Regions from separate parts of the Homo sapiens genome. Here region 2 is linked to region 1. A link means that fine-mapping ties the variant in region 1 to the expression of a gene that starts in the linked region. Tissue or cell type: unexposed skin. Region 1 holds a variant in brackets; the other region holds the start of a gene. All regions are shown on one strand. Distances are from middle to middle.

Region 1 (8,000 bases):
TGGGCACAGTGGCTCGTGCCTGTAATCCCAGCACTTTGGGAGGCCAAGGCAGGCGGATCATCTGAGGTCAGGAGTTCAAGACCAGCCTGGCTAACATGGTGAAACTCCGTTTCTACTAAAAATACAAAAAAATTAGCCGGGTGTGGTGGTAGGTGCCTGTAATCCCAGCTACTCGGGAGGCTGAGGCAGGAGAATCGCTTGAACCTGGGAGGTGAAGCTTGCAATGAGCCGAGATTGCACCACTGCACTCCAGTTTAGGCAACAAGAGCGAAACTCCATCTCAAAAAAAAAAAAAAAAAAAAAGTGTTTCATCCTCTTCAATTTTTTGGAAAAAATTTAAGAAGAATTGGTATAATTTTTTTTTTGAGACAGGGTCTCACTCCACTGCTCAGGCTGAAGTGCAGTGGTGAAATCATGGCTCACTGAAGCCTCAACCTCTGGGGGTCAAGCAATCCTCCCACCTCAGGCTCTGAAGTAGCTGGGACTACAGGCATGTGCTATCATGCCTGGCTAGTTTCATTTTTCAAATTTTTGTAAAGAAAGGGTCTCACTATGTTGCCCAGGTTAGTGTTAAACTCCTGGGCTCAGTTGATCCTCCCTCCTAGGCCTCCCAAAGTGCTGGAATTACAGACGTGACCCACCAGGCCCAGCCTTGCAAGTTCTTTAAATGTTTGGTAGAATTCACCCAATTAAGCCATCTGGTCTTGGACTTTCCTTAGTTTCAAGATCTTTGATTACAGATTCAATGACCTCTTCATTGTAGGTCTGCTAAGATATTTTATTTCTTCTTTACTCAGTTTTTGTAATTTGAGTGTTTCTAAGAGTTTGTCCATTTGCATCCAGGTTATCTAATTTGTTGGCATAAACTGTTCATTATAATCCTTTTCATCCTGTTCTTATAACCCTTTTCATTTCTGTAAGGTCATTAGTAATGTTCCCACTTTCATTTCTGATTTCAGTAATTCGAGTCTTCTCTTTTTTTCTTAGTCTAGCTAAAGGTTTACCAACTACGTCAGTCTTTTCAAAGAACCAACTTTTGCTTTCATTCATTCTCTCTATTGGTTTTTCTATTCTCTATTTCATTTACTCTAACTCTAATTTTTTTTTTTTTTTTTTTTTTTTGAGACAGAGTCTCACTCTGTTGCCCAGGCTGGAGCGCAGTGGCATGATCTCAGCTTGCTGCAACCTCTGCCTCCCCGGTTCAAGTGATTCTCCTGCCTCAGCCTCTTGAGTAGCTGGGATTACAGGCGTCTGCTACCACATCTGGCTAATTTAATTTTTAAATTTTTTTAGTAGAAATGGGGCTTAAGCATGTTGGCCAGGCTGGTCTCAAACTCCTGACCTCAGGTGATCTGCCCACCTTGGCCTCCCAAAGTGCTGGGATTACAGGCGTGAGCCACCACGCCCAGCCCAACTTTAATCTTTATTGTTTCCTTCCCTCTGCTAGCTTTGAGTTTAGTTTGTTCTTTACCTACTTCCTTCGGGTATAAAGTTTGGTTTTTCATTTCAGATTCATTTTCCTTCTTTTTTAACATACACTTTTAGCGCTATAATTTTTTTTTTGTATTTTTTTCTGGCACACAAATGAGGATTAGATAGAACTATACATTTCTCTCTGGGCACTGCTTTTGCGTATTCCAAAATTTTGGTAAACTGTGTTCTTGTTTTCATTTATCTCAATGTATTTTCGAATTTCCCTTGTGATTTCATCTTTGATCCACTCATTGTTTAAGAGTATGTTGTTTAACTTCCATGCATTTTCTAGTGTTACCTCTGTTATTGATTCCTACCTTCATTCCACTGCGGTCAGAAAAGATACTTCATATAGTCTCAATCTTTTTTAAATTTATTGAGACTTGTTTTGTGGCCTAACATATGGTCTATCCTGAAAAATGTTCCATGTGTACTTGAAAAGAAATTATAATCTGCTGTTGTTGAGTGGAGTGTTTTGTATATGTCTGCTAAGTCTAGTTGGTTTATAGCACCTAAGAGTTGATTTATTTGTTTGTTTGTTTGTTTGTTTGTTTTGAGACAGAGTCTCACTCTGTTGCCCAGGCTGAAGTGTAGTGGCGTGATCTCGGCTCACAGCAACCTCTGCCTCCAGGGTTCAAGCGATTCTCCTGCCTCAGCCTCCCAAGTAGCTGGGACTACAGGCACGCGCCACCACACTCAGCTAATTTTTGTATTTTTAGCAGAGATGGGGTTTCACCATGTTGGTCAGGGTGGTCTCGAACTCCTGATAGACATCCAGATAGGAGGGGATTGTACTTGGATTAGGGCATGGCAAAAGAGCTGGGGAGTAGCAGGTGATTTCAAGAGATAAGCAGAAGTAGGAAGTAGGCTTCCAGCAGGATGAGACAGGGTTCTCAGTTCAGGAGAAGAAAACAGGCCCCGGGATAACCCACAGTGGCCTGCCTAAAGTGCTATCTATGTCCTTGACCCAGCTGGCCACCATCAGCCAGGCCCAAGGAGAGCGACATTAGGCCATCTTCTCTCATTCAAGGCTGCCCCAAGCTGACTCCAAGACAGGCAAAAAGTTACAAACCACAACTCTCTCACATCAGCCTGAGAGCTTAGAGAGGAGGACCTTGCCTTTAACAGAAGGCCATCAAAAGGGCTATTTTCCAAGACATAATCAGGTGGTCCCAATCTTTCCATAAACACAGAGTAGCCGTCTGAAGGCTTTTCCTTCACATACATGGTTCATTCATGCTTCAAAAAGCCAACAGGAGAGGAATCCTACCTTGAGGGTTACCTGGACATTTGTCTCTGTCCTGTGCCCTTGCCCAGAAGGCTGCCCTCTTGGCACTTGTGCTGCATCTCATACAATGAAGGAAGCTGAGCCTAAGGTTACTCCCTCAGGGGTCCCCTTCTCCCCTAGATGAAGTCTGGGCAGCAGTCTCCAGCACTGCCCAGCTGAGTTAACAAGCACTTCCTTCCTCCCCGCCCTCACCTCCGCACCCTGCCAACTGCAAAAGAAACCCCTCGCACTGGCTGTCGTAGGAAAACTGTTGCCGGATGACTAATCCCATGACTGCCACCTGCTGCATTATTTTCAAGAAGTTCCTAAAAAATAAGGCAATTTATCATTTATTTATTTATTTATACTTAGAAAAGCGAAACCAGGGAGAGGAAGCTAGATCTCTAGTTAGCATCCTTACTTGGCCAGTGTGAGTGCCCTGAGCCCAGCTGTGCCAGCAGCCACAGATTTTGCCACAGTGGCTTCCCACAGGCATACAAACTGAGACCACAGGTCCTTCTGGGGGTCCCAACACAGCCCATGTCTGAGATGGTCCCACCTGCCTCCTTCACTGGGTGATGGAGTGGTACCCGGGGGACCGCCGTCAAGCTCAGCATCATTGCTGACATACGAGAGCTACATGAGTGCTGACACCTCAGGGAGAACAGTCACCAAGCAGGTGACCCATGCTCCAAATGAGTGAGACAAAAGAGAAAGCCAGACTGGTTTTCAGTGCCCTTTAATACTCACTGAGACCCTAGAGCTGGGAGACAGACCCCAACATGGGAGACAGGGATGGGGCATAAGGACCAACATCACTAGCTCTCATCCTGCCAAATGCTGGAGCTCCTTCCACAGGACTCACCATCTCCCCACCCAGTCTCCAAGATAGTCTGGGAGAGCAGGGGCTGTGCCCCCTTCTCACCTGGAGCCCTGCCTCCCCAGACAAACACATAGGTCTGTGGAATACACCATTCCACTAATGACTTCAGAAGGATCACTGTTGCATGTGTAGACACATTTTTCAACCATCAGAAACATTTACTGTAGCTCTGGGCAGGCAAGGCTGTGGGAGGTGTGTGTCCTCACACACTCCTGTTAACATTCCATGGCACAACCCCTGTGGAAGGCAGTTTGACAATACCTTGAAGAATTACAAATGTACG[C/T]GCCCACTGACCCAGCAAGCCGGCTTCCTGGAACATAAGTTTCATTTATACTCACATGTGCATGAAATGAAGTACTTGCAAGGTTACTCATGGCAGCACAGTATGTCACAACAAAATAAGGAAAACAACCCAAATGCTCACCAACAAGCTATAGGTTACATAAACTATGGTCCACCCATACAATGAAATACTACACTGTTGTAAGAACAAGGAGGAGGCTTTTTACATATTGACAGGGAAAATTTCCAAGACATATTGCTAAATGGAAAATAAAGAAGGCAGTGAATGCAGTTATTTTGAAATAAGTACCTATTTGAATATACATGTGAAGATACAAGTATCTCTGGCTGCCTCTTGGTAGGAGAATGGGGTGAGTGACTGGGAACCAGGAGTCAAAGACAAGACCTCACTGTGTAGGATTTAGAAGCTGTTGGTTTATGAGTCATGTTAAAATATTACTTTTTTTTTTTTTTGAGACAGAGTCTCACCCTGGTGCAATCTTGGCTCACTGCAACCTCCGCCTCCTGGGTTCAAGTGATTCTCCTGCCTCAGCCTCCTGAGTAGCTGGGATTACAGGCACGCACCACCACGCCCAGCTAATTTTTTGTATCTTTAGTACAGACAGGTTTTCACCATGTTGGCTAGGCTGGTCTCAAACTCCTGACCTCGTGATCCACCTGCCGCAGCCTCCCAAAGTGCTGGGATTACAGGCATGTGCCACCACACCCAGCCGAACATTACATATTTAAAAAATAAATTTATTGGCCGGGCGCGGTGGCTCATGCCTGTAATCCCAGTACTTTGGGAGGCTGAAGTGGGCGGATCACGTGAGGTCAGGAGTTTGAGACCAGCCTGGCCAACGTGATGAAACCCTGTCTGTATTAAAAATACAAAAATTAGCTGGGCATGGTGGTGTGCGCCTATAATCCCAGCTACTTGGGAGGCTAAGGCAGGATAATTGCTTGAACACGGAAGGCAGAGGTTGCAGTGAGCCGAGATCATGCCACTGTACTCCAGCCTGGGCGACAGAGTGAGACTCTATCTCAAAAAATAAAATAAATTTATAAAGTAAGAAACAAAATGTCTTGCTCAGGACATCTGAGCGGGCTTCCCTAATAGGCAAAGACAGCAGCTCTGGCTAAATGGTTTCACTCTCCACGATGGGGGAACCTGGGGAAACGGCTGGCTTGAGGCACAGACTGACTGCTGCTTCTGGACCTAACCCACTGCAGCATCTGAAGGGTCTGCTGAAGTCCTGACTAGCCCAAAGAAAGGCACACACAGCTCCTGCCCACCAAAAACATTTCCATGCCAAGAACTGCTCGCCAGACAGAATGGCTGAGTCTCTCACTGCTGACGATGCACAGAACATGCACGCACCTTGACCTTCCAGATTGATCCACGCTGGCCTGGGTCTCCTGGCCACCACTGCCCACCAGTGGCTTGCAATTCCCACTTCCTCCAGACTCATGACACCACCATATACACACCCGCTGTCCCAAGTGCTCACTACCTGAATGAGTGTTCATCACGCGGACAGCCTTGGCCTTGGCCAGCTCCAGGGCGGTGATCCACTGCTGCCGGTCCACCTCTGAGCTGGCCTTGAGGTGGTAGCTCCTGGCCCCACTGGTCAGCAAGATACCACAAGAGTCCTCCGTGTCAATGTGCGCGGTGGACAGGTTGATGGTTCCACGGCACGTGTGGGCCATTTCACCCTGATTTCTGTAGGATGTAAGAGAAGGAATGGGGTGAGGCTCCTAATCTCAATGGCTCCAGACTAAAGAAACCCTCCAGGCAAATCCTCAGAATCTCAGACCCTCAGAGCTGGGAGAGGCCCTGGAGTCAAAGTTGGGAGATGATGCCTATTGGAACTGCCTGGTCGTGGCTTGGTTGAGGGGGACTCTAAGGCCACGACTGCTCTCTGTGGGGAATGGCAGAGGGACGGGAGCCTGCATTGGTGCCACGTGTGCAGGGAGTGTCTGGTGTGGTCTAAAGCTTTGCAGACACCAGGAAATGGCAGAATGACTGCCCAGGTCTCTCAAGACAGATCAGCCTTCGGACTCTATGCTAAACTCTTTCCTTTAAGTCTTAGAACCATGGAGTTGGGGCCAGGCGCGGTGGCTCACACCTGTAATCTCAGCACTTTGGGAGACCGAGGAGGGCAGATCACTTGAGGTCATGAGCCAACACGGTGAAACCCTGTCTCTACTAAAAATGAAACTGCCTTTGCAAAATTATGACTGAGAGTGAAAGAGATCTAACTTAACTGACTCCATCTTGCTTCTAACCTCCAAGCTGTCTTTGTTCATTCCTGGGCATAGGCTGAATTAACTTTGAAAGAAACTTAATTTGTAGTTTATAGTTTAAACAAAGATGGGAACAGCCCTTTCCCGAAGCAGACCTCCTTCTTGCCTAGGGACTAGAGTAACATTAGCCACAGGATTAGAAATTATGGTTTAGGAGTCATGCATTTGGAGGCTATAAGATTCTGACCCTCCCTAAACTGCTCCTAAGAGCAGTGCTTGAGATATTTTGCAAACCCTGCACTTGATGGATCAGCTGGCACCACCCACATCGATAAACTGGCTCGTCTGATCTTGTGGCCCCCACCTAGGAACTGACTCAGCACAAGAAGACAGCTTCAACATCCTGTGATCTCATCCCTGACCAATCAGCACTCCTGGCTTACTGGTTCCCCCACCACCCTCCAAGTTATCCTTAAAAACTCTGCTCCCCTTGGCCAGGCGCGGTGGCTCACACCTTTAATCCCAGCACTTTGGGAGGCCGAGATGGGCAGATCACCCGAGGTCAGGAGTTCAAGACCAGCTGGCCAACATGGTGAAATCCCGTCTCTACTAAAAATACAAAAATTAGCTGGGCGTGGTGGCTCTTGCCTGTAATCCCAGCTACTCGGGAGGCTGAGGCAGGAGAATTGCTTAAACCAGGACCGGGGAGGCAGAGGTTGCCGTGAGCCAAGATCGCGCCACTGCACTCCAGCCTGGGCTACAGAGCGAGACTCTGTCTCAAACACAAACAAACAAACAAAACAAAACAAAACAAAAACTCTGCTCCCTGAATGCTCAGGGAGACTGATTTGAATAATAATAAAACTCCCATCTCCCGCACAGCAGACTCTGTGTGAATTACTCTTTCTCTATTGCAATTCCCCTGTTTTCATGAATCGCCTCCGTCTAGGCAGCAGGCAAGGTGAACCCCTTGGGCGTTTACAAAAATACAAAAATTAGCCGGGCATGGTAGCGTGCACCTGTAGTCCCAGCTACTTGGGAGGCTGGGGCAGGAGAATCACTTGAACCCGGGAGGCGGAGGTTGCAGTGAGCCAAAATGGTGCCACTACACTCCAGCCTGGGTGACAGAGCGAGACTCTGTCTCAAAACAAACAAAAAAAAGAACTACAGAGTTGGAGCAGGTTGGGATCCTGCCATTAAAACTGAAATTGGAGGCCCAGAGCCTGAGGGGGCAGACGTAGAGGCATCTCCTGCTGGGAGGCACCTGGGGCCAATGTCTCCCTGATGCTGCCCTTTTGTTCTATCATGAGATCTACAGAGCAAGGATGTCCCATTCTCTGGCTCTACATGGATTAGTTGAAGGCATTGGCTGGGCAAACATAGTGCAATCTCATAACAACGGACTTATAAGATGATGGAGCTAATGGTATCAAAATAAGGGGAGGGTAGGTGACTAAAGTGTATGCCATTTCCAATTACAATCAATGTCGGAAAACGGAGATCCAACTATCATGACTGGATCTAACTCACTCCTCAGACACTTGAAGGAAATTCAGAACCCCTACGACATAATAAATCTTTTCCCATGAAGGGTGTTAGAAAAGGAAGAGTGATTGGCCAGCATTTAATACTGCCAGTGACAGGAGCTCATTTGGTAATTTTCTGCTACCTTTTAATGCTCATTTATTTTCCCTGGCTGTTCATCATCTGTCATTTTTTTGATTCTTCTATCAGTTCTAAAGTCAAATGACTCGACACTCAATCAGACATTTGTCAGCTGGGCACGGTGGCTCACGCCTGTAATCCCAGCACTTTGGGAGGAGGAGGCAGGTGGATCACTTGAGGTGA
Region 2 (8,134 bases), 110 kb after region 1:
TGTGCAAATCATGAACTTCTTTCTTTCTTTCTTCTTTTTTTTTTTTTTTTTGAGATGGAGTCTAGCTCTGTCCCTAGGCTGGAGTGCAGTGGCGTGATCTCGGCTCACTGCAACCTCTGCCTCCTGGGTTCAAGTGATTCTCCTGCCTCAGGTTCCCGAGTAGGGGGGATTACAGGCAGGCGCCACCACGCCCAGCTAATTTTTGTAATTTTAGTAGACAGGGTTTCACCACGTTGGCCAGGATGGTCTTGATCTCCTGACCTCGTGATCCTCCCACCTCTGTTGCGGGAAGTCAGGGACCCCAAACGGAGGGACCAGCTGAAGCCATTGCAGAAGAACGTGGATTGTGAAGATTTCATGGACATTTATTAGTTTCCCAAATTAATACTTTTGTAATTTCTTACGCCTGTCTTTACTGCAATCTCTGAACATAAATTGTGAAGATTTCATGGACACTTATCACTTCTCCAACCAATACCCTTGTGATTTCCTATGCCTATCTTTAATCTCTTAATCCCATCATCTTCGTAAGCTGAGGAGGCTGTATGTCGCCTCAGGACCCTGTGATGATTGCGTTAACTGCACAAATTGTAGAGCATGTGTGTTTGAACAATATGAAATCTGGGCACCTTGAAAGAACAGGATAACAGCAATGTTCAGGGAACAAGAGAGATAATCTTAAACTCTGACTGCCGGTGAGCCGGGTGGAACAGAGCCATATTTCTCTTCTTTCAAAAGCAAATGGGAGAAATGTTGCTGAATTCTTTTTCTCAGCAAGGGACATCCTTGAGAAAGAGAATGCGTCCCTGAGGGTAGGCCTCTAAAATGGCTGCTTCTGGGGGGCGGCCATCTTTTATGGTCGAAGCTGTAGGGATGAAATAAGCCCCAGTCTCCCATAGCGCTCCCAGGCTTATTAGGACGAGGAAATTCCCGCCTAATAAATTTTGGTCAGACTGGTTGTCTGCTCTCAAACCCTGTCTCTTGATAAGATGTTATCAATGACAATGCGTGCCCGAAACTTCATTAGCAATTTTAATTTCACCCCGGTCCTATGGTCCTGTGATCTGGCCCTGCCTCCATTTGCCTTGTGATATTCTATTACCTTGTGAAGCACGTGGTCTCTGTGACCCACATCCTATTGGTACACTCCCTCCCCTTTTGAAAATCACTAATCAAAACTTGCTGGTTTTATGGCTCAGGGGGCATCACGGAACCTGCCGACATATGATGTCTCCCCCGGACACCCAGCTTTAAAATTTCTCCCTTTTGTACTCTGTCCCTTTATTTCTCAGACCAGCTGACACTTAGGTAATACAGAAAAGAACCTACGTGAAATATCAGGGGTGAATTTCGCCCGATATCTGGCTGAATTTCCCCCAATACACCTCAGCCTCCCAAAGTGCTGGGATTACAGGTGTGAGCCACTGCGCTGGGCTGAACTTCTTTCTTTTTCTTGAGACAGAGTCTCATTCTGTCGCCCAGGCTGGAGTGCAGTGGTGTAATCTCAGCTCACTGCAACCTCCTTCTCCCGGGTTCAAGGAATTCTTATGCCTCAGCCTCCCCAGTAGCTGGGATTACAGGTGCATGCCACCTGGCCCGGCTAATTTTGAGACAGAGTTTCACTCTTGTTACCCAGGCTGGAGTGCAATAGCGTGATCTCAGCTCACTGCAACCTCCGCCTCCCAGGTTCAAGCGATTCTCTCACCTCAGCCTCCTGAGTAGCTGGGATTACAGGCGCCCACCATCACGCTCAGCTAATTTTTGTATTTTCAGTAGAGACAGGGTTTCCCCATGTTGGCCAGGCTGGTCTCGAACTCCTGACCTCAGGTGATCCACTTGCCTCGGCCTCCCAAAGTGCTGGGATTACAGCTGTGAGCCACTGCGCCTGGCCCAATTTTTTTTTTTTTTTTTTTTTTTTTGAGATGGAGTCTCACTCTGTCGCCTTGGCTGGAGTGCAGTGGGGCGATCTTGGCTCACTGCAACCTCTGCCACCCGGGTTCAAGCTATTCTCCTGCCTCAGCCTCCCGAGTAGCTGGGATTACAGACACCTGCCATGGCGCCCGGTTAATTTTTTTGTATTTTTAGTAGAGATGGGGTTTCACCACCTTGGTTAGTCTGTTCTTGAACTTCTGACCTCATGATCCACCCGCCTCAGCCTCCCAAAGTGCTGGAATTACAGGCATGAGACACCGCGCCCGGCCCCAATTTTTGTATTTTTAATAGATACAGGGTTTCACCATGTTGGCCAGGGTGGTCTCGAACTCCTGGTCTCAAGAGTCCTCCCACCTCAGCCTCCCAAAGTGCTGGGATTACAGGCATGAGATACCATGCCCAGCCTGTCAAATCATGAACTTCTCTGGGTCTTAGTCCCATCATCTGTAAAATGGGGATAAAGTTGGTGGTTGCCATGACAACTCAAGGTCAACACTCAGCACCAAGCCTGTCACACTGTAGCTCCCAGTAAACAACAGCCCTCCCCAGACTTAGACCTGACCCCTGACCTTCCAAATCCCAGCTCATCCCAGACCCTCCTTTTCTCTCCCTGGCCCATGCTTTCTGGCTTTCCTTTGTGTCCAAAGCCTCAGGCCACATCTCTTGGAAGCATGGAGTCTGACTATCTGGGTTTAGATCTTGCCTCTGCTGCTCACTGGCCACGTGGCCCAGGGCAAGCCTCTTCATCTATCAAATGGGAACAATACAGTGAGATAAAAGGCTAGTCAAACACAGATCACTGGCTATCACTAAATACTGGTTTGTAATTCCAGAACTTCAGGAAGCTGAGGGGGGAAGATCGCTGAGGACAGGAGTTCAAGACCTACCTTGGCAACATAGCAAGACTCTGTGTCTATAAAAAAAAAAAATTAGCTGACCAGGTGGGGTGGCTCACGCTTGAAATCCTAGCACCTTGGGAGGTCAGGAGTTCAAGATCAGCCTGGCCAACATGGTAAAATGCTGTCTCTACTAAAAATACAAAAATTAGCTTAGCGTGGTGGTGTGCACCTGTAGTCCCACTTACTTGGGAGGCTGAGGCAGAAGAATCACTTGAACCCAGGATGCGGAGGCTGTATTGAGCTGAGATCTCACCAATGCAGCCTGGGTGACAGAGCCAGACCCTGTCTAAATAAGTAAATAAACAAATAAACACGAGTTGGGCCTCCAGAGCCTGAGTCTGGGGCCTGGAACTCACTGAACTGTTGGCCCTCTCTGAGCCTCAGTTCTGCTTCCTCCACAGCCATGAACCTCAGTTTCCTCATTTGTAAAATGGGACAACAGCCATACCCCTCACAGGGCCATCCAGGCCATGCACCCACCCGGACCCCCACCTTCTCAATTGGCCACCCAGGCACTTACTTTGCTGAACCGACTTGAGTCCGCGGAGGCAGGTGGCTGCGAGCAGGAAGCCACAGCCGGTAGGGGGTGTCCGGAACTCTCCAGCCAGGCTGCAGGCGGCCCCCAGGCAGAGCGGACCCATGGCGGCCAACTGAAGTGGGTGGTGGCGGCGGCCCAGCAGCAGCGCCGACAGGGCCAGGGTGAACAGAGGTGTGGTGGTAGTAACCAGTTGTGCCAGGTCCAGGGGCACAGCCCTTAGGCCCACGTTGCCGCAGGCCATGGACGTGCCAAAGGTGAGACTGAGCAGTAGGACTCGGCAGCGAGTGCCGCCTGGCATGGGGCGCCGTGCCCCCCGGTGGCATGCCAGGGCTGCCACCAGCATGTGCAGGGCCGACAGCAGCAGGGGCCGCCCAAAGCCGTGCACTGTGAAGATCCACTTGTTGAGGCTTGACATGCTGGCTCCCGCCAGCAGCCACACCAGTGCTGCCATGGCCACTCGGGCCCGGCCAGGCTGCCGGAGGGCCTGAGGGCTGCCAGGGGGCCACTCGGGGGGCCCAGCCGCCTGAGCACCACCAGCTGCTGCTCCTACTTCGGCTGAGGTCATCCTGCCATCATGGTGCTCCGGCGGGCAGCGGCACATCCGCACCAGTGAGGCTAGGGCAGGAGGCGGGCTCCCCAGTGACGACCTCTGGGCCACCAGAGAGTTCCGCTTGGGGCCAGGCTAGATCCTGGTTCCTCCGACCCCGTGTCCCGTTTCAGACAGGTGAGGACACTGCTTACTTGTGCCAGGCCTGTGCCAGCGATGTCTAGAAGCTAAGCTGTGTTTCCAGCTCAGACAGGGCAGAGCCAAGGTCGCGGCTGCTAGGATGCCAGGGTCTCCGATGCTCAAGCGTGGGCTCCAGGCACCTCTGCCCCGTGCCAGGTGGTCTCCACTTTCCTCCTCGCCTAGTGCCCACGTTATGCTTTTAGATGAAATCCTCGTTCCTTTTTTCTCTTCAGTCCCCAGGTCATTAGGGTGCGCGCAGATCCAGACCCTGGGAACTCCTGCGTGCTCTGGCCGTGACCAGGCCTGGCAGGGGGGCGATCTGGGCTCCGCGCCTGGCGGTGCCCGGCCCGGGGGGTCGCGGGCTCGCTGCCTCCCACAGCGCCCGGGCAGTGAGCTGACACCACGGCCCGTCCTCCGGCCGGTGCCTGGCGGCGAGCTAGGCGCGGATCCAGCAGGGCCTGCGCTCCAACTCCTGCTCTCTGAGGCTTTGGCTGCGGCTCTGGCTGCGGCTGTGACTCCGGCTGCGGCTCCTGCTGCGACTCACGCCCGGCTCCAGCTCAGGCCCGGCACGGCGGGCGCGGCGGTGCGCTCTTGACTCCGCCTCCGCCTCTGCCTCCCCCGCCGCCGCCCGCTCCCTACACGGAAAATTGGGCTGAGCACCCCAGCCAAGCCCCGCCCCAGGCCAAGCCCCGCCCCCGGACCGGGAGGGCGGTCTTGCCCCGCCCCAACGCCTCCCGCTCACAGCCCCTCCCCCATCGGCCTGGCATTTCCCCCATCAGCCCTCCTCCGCCCGGGGCCTGCGCATCTGCCCAGTAGACCCCCCCACGAGCTGGCGTGGTCAGCCTCTCTTCGCCGCCAGGGGGGACCAAGTCGCTCCCCACCCAGCGCCAAGGCGAGCCCTCCATGGAGATGAACGCGCATTGCTGGAGACACTGGGGTATCCCGCACAGCCGCCCAGGCTATCTTCAAGAAGCAGGGTAGTGAGGAGGGGCCCACAGCCCCCATCCTAGGACCAGTCTTACGCCCACCTGATCTCTGGCCACAATTATCTCGTGGGACCTCAGCATCCAGCAGAGCTGGATTACGGGGTCCCTTAAGGCACCTCCATCGCCCCTCCGTAGCCCCAGCATCCTCCCCAGCCTCCCAGTCCAGGGCGGCGCCCCCTGGGGACCCTCAGAGGGAAGCTGAATCACCAGGCAGGGATACCCACAGCTGCGGAAGTAGGTACCGCCGGCCGGCATCCTTCCCCGGCCAGCAGCCTCTGTCCGGTCCCCTGAGCACTCGAAGCTGACTCATAGCAGAACTTCCTGGGGTCCACCCTGTGCCCCAGCCCCGGCAAGACAGAGCCCTGGGCTGGGAGGCAGAGCGGTTGCCACTGAGCCCTTGTTCCTGTCTGGGTCTCGGTTTTCCCACCAGAACGACAGACGCTCTCTGAGGTCAGGATTGGGTAAACGGCGCGCCCCAGGGCAGAAGAGGTCCATCCAGATTCCAGGCTAGGCCAGGCCCTGGCCCCTCTGAGCTCTGAAGTCCGGGAGCACGAGGACCAAGGCCCAGCCATGTGCCCAGTATCAGATGTGAGCCTCTTTCCTGTTGTCGGTCTTCCTACTAGGCTCCTGCCCAAGAGGACCCAGCTCACCCCTTGCCTGTTGTCTAACCAGCAAATCCTTGATGACAGCAACCTGTCTTGAGACACAAGATCTCAAAGGGGTACCGCTGAACCCAGCCCGCTGCGCCCTCTGGTGGCCAGGCGCTGAATATAGCCCTCAATCCCCATCCCAATCACAGGACGCGGGTTTAAAATCCCCAGCCTCAAAGGAGGCCTGCTGAATCAGAGGCTCTCTGTCACGGGTGGGCCTGGGAATTTACATGGTCACATTTGCCTCTGTAAGTCCGACGCCCGCTGGAGCCTGCAGATCTCTGCTGAATAGCCTAAGCTACAGCGCAGGGGGTGCAGATAGGGAAATTTCCAGGCCAAGGACCAAAAAATGGTGGCATTTAGTGTTTCTCCAGAAAGGGTTGTGGAAAGGAAACTAAGCCAGCCAAAGCGGATGGCCCCTCTCCCGCACCCCCTTGCCATTTCCTGAGGAAGAGAAATCTGGGACCCCTAAGGGTTATAATTATCTTTGATATTTTGTCAGGTTTTTTTGTTTGTTTGTTTTCCAAGACCGAGTTTCGCTCTTGTTGCCCAGGCTGGAGTGCAATGGCACGATCTCAGCTCACTGCAACCTCTGCCTCCCAGGTTCAGGTGGTTCTCCTACCTCAGCCTCCCGAGTAGCTGGGATTACAGGCGTGCGCCACCAAACCCGGCTAATTTTTGTATTTTTAGTAGAGACAGGGTTTCACCATGTTGGTCAGGTTGGTCTCAAACTCTTGACCTCAGGTGATCCACCCACCCTGGCCTCCCAAAGTGCTGAGATTACAGGCGTAAACCACCACGCCCAGCCTGGATTTTGTCAGTTTTCTAGTAAGTCTCCTTTAGTAAAAAACAATAGTCTGGGTACAGTGGCTCATGCCTGTAGTCCCAGCACGTTGGGAGGCTGAGGCATGAGGATCACTTGAGCTCAGGAGTTGGAGACCAGCTTGGGCAACAGGGCAAAGCCTCGTGTCTACAGAAAATACAAAAATAAGCTGGGAGGCTGGCCGAAGAGGTTCACGCCTGTAATCCCAGCACTTTAGGAGGCCGAGGCTGGCGGATCACTTAAGGTCAGGAGTTGGAGACAGCCTGGCCAACATGGTGAAACCCCGTCTCTACTAAAAATACAAAAATTAGCTGGGTGTGGCGGTGGGCGCCTGTAGTCCCAGCTACTCAGGTGGCTGAGGCAGGGGAATCGCTTGAACCCGGGAGGCAGAGCTTGCAGTGAGCCAAAATCACACCACTGCACTCCAGCCTGGAAGAAATCGCACTACTGCACTCCAGCCTGGACGAAAGAGCAAGACTGCATCTCAAAAACAAACAAACAAACAAACAAACATGAGCTTGGCATGGTGGTGTCTGCCTGTAGTCCCAGCTACTCAGGGGATTGGGAGGGAGGATCCCTTGAGCCCAGGAGATGGAGGCTGCAGTGAGCTAAGATTGCACCACTGCACTCCAGCCTGGGTGACAAAGACCCTGCCTCAAAAAAAAATTTTTTTTTTTTTTTGAGAGAGTCTCGCTCTGTCGCCCAGGCTGGAGTGCAGTGGCACGATCTCAGCTCACTACAAGCTCCGCCTCCTGGGTTCATGCTATCCTCCTGCCTCAGCCTCCTGAGTAGCTGGGACTACAGGTTCACGCCACCACGCCCGGCTAATTTTTTGTATTTTTAGTAGAGACAGGGTTTCACCGTGTCAGCCAGGATGGTCTCGATCTCCTGACCTTGTGATCCACCCGCCTTGGCCTCCCAAAGTGCTGGCATTACAGGGGTGAGCCACCGCACCCGACCAAAACTTTTTTAAATTTAATTAAAAAATAATAAGAGAGAAAAAACCAACAACAGTAATATTTTTTTTTTGAGATGGAGTTTCGCTCTTGTCACCCAGGCTGGAGTGCAGTGGCACAATCTCAGCTCACTGCAACCTCTGACACCCCCCGACCCCGGGTTCAAGTGATTCTCCTGCCTCAGCCTCCCAAGTACCTGCCATCATGCCTGGCTAATTTTTGTATTTTTACTAGAGATGGGGTTTCACCATGTTGGCCAGGCTGGTCTCGAACTCCTGACCTCAGGTGATCCACCCACCTTGGCCTCCCAAAGTGCTGGGATTACAGGCATGAGCCACCTTGCTCAGCAACAATAATAATTTATATATACATAAATTTTATTGCCCTCTCCCTCTCCCTCTCCCCACGGTCTCCCTCTCCCTCTCTTTCCACCGTCTCCCTCTGATGCCGAGCCGAAGCTGGACTGTACTGCTGCCATCTCAGCTCACTGCAACCTCTCTGCCTGATTCTCCTGCCTCAGCCTGCCGAGTGCCCGCGATTGCAGGCACGCGCCGCCACGCCTGACTGGTTTTCGTATTTTTTTGGTGGAGACGGGGTTTTGCTGTGTTGGCCGGGCTGGTCTC

What was found. PIP is the estimated chance that this variant, and not a neighbour inherited with it, causes the effect.
Region 2: it holds the start of SLC35E4, and the variant in region 1 is fine-mapped to the expression of SLC35E4 in unexposed skin (GTEx, PIP above 0.99).

Annotation. Positions count from the first base shown.
Region 1 is chr22:30,738,789-30,746,788 of GRCh38, reverse strand. OSBP2 (oxysterol binding protein 2) reads right to left here. Exons shown (of 14, transcript NM_030758.4): 2 at 5,420-5,628. Among named protein-coding and RNA genes, the nearest start is that of MIR3200, 11 kb to the right of the region's middle. RefSeq lists enhancers at 6,032-6,091, 6,382-6,441. The variant C/T (reference allele first, on the strand shown) is at 3,907.
Region 2 is chr22:30,632,287-30,640,420 of GRCh38, reverse strand. SLC35E4 (solute carrier family 35 member E4) reads right to left here and starts at 4,640. Exons shown (of 2, transcript NM_001001479.4): 1 at 3,352-4,640. The coding sequence starts at 3,970. RefSeq lists a silencer at 4,433-4,882 and an enhancer at 5,214-5,918.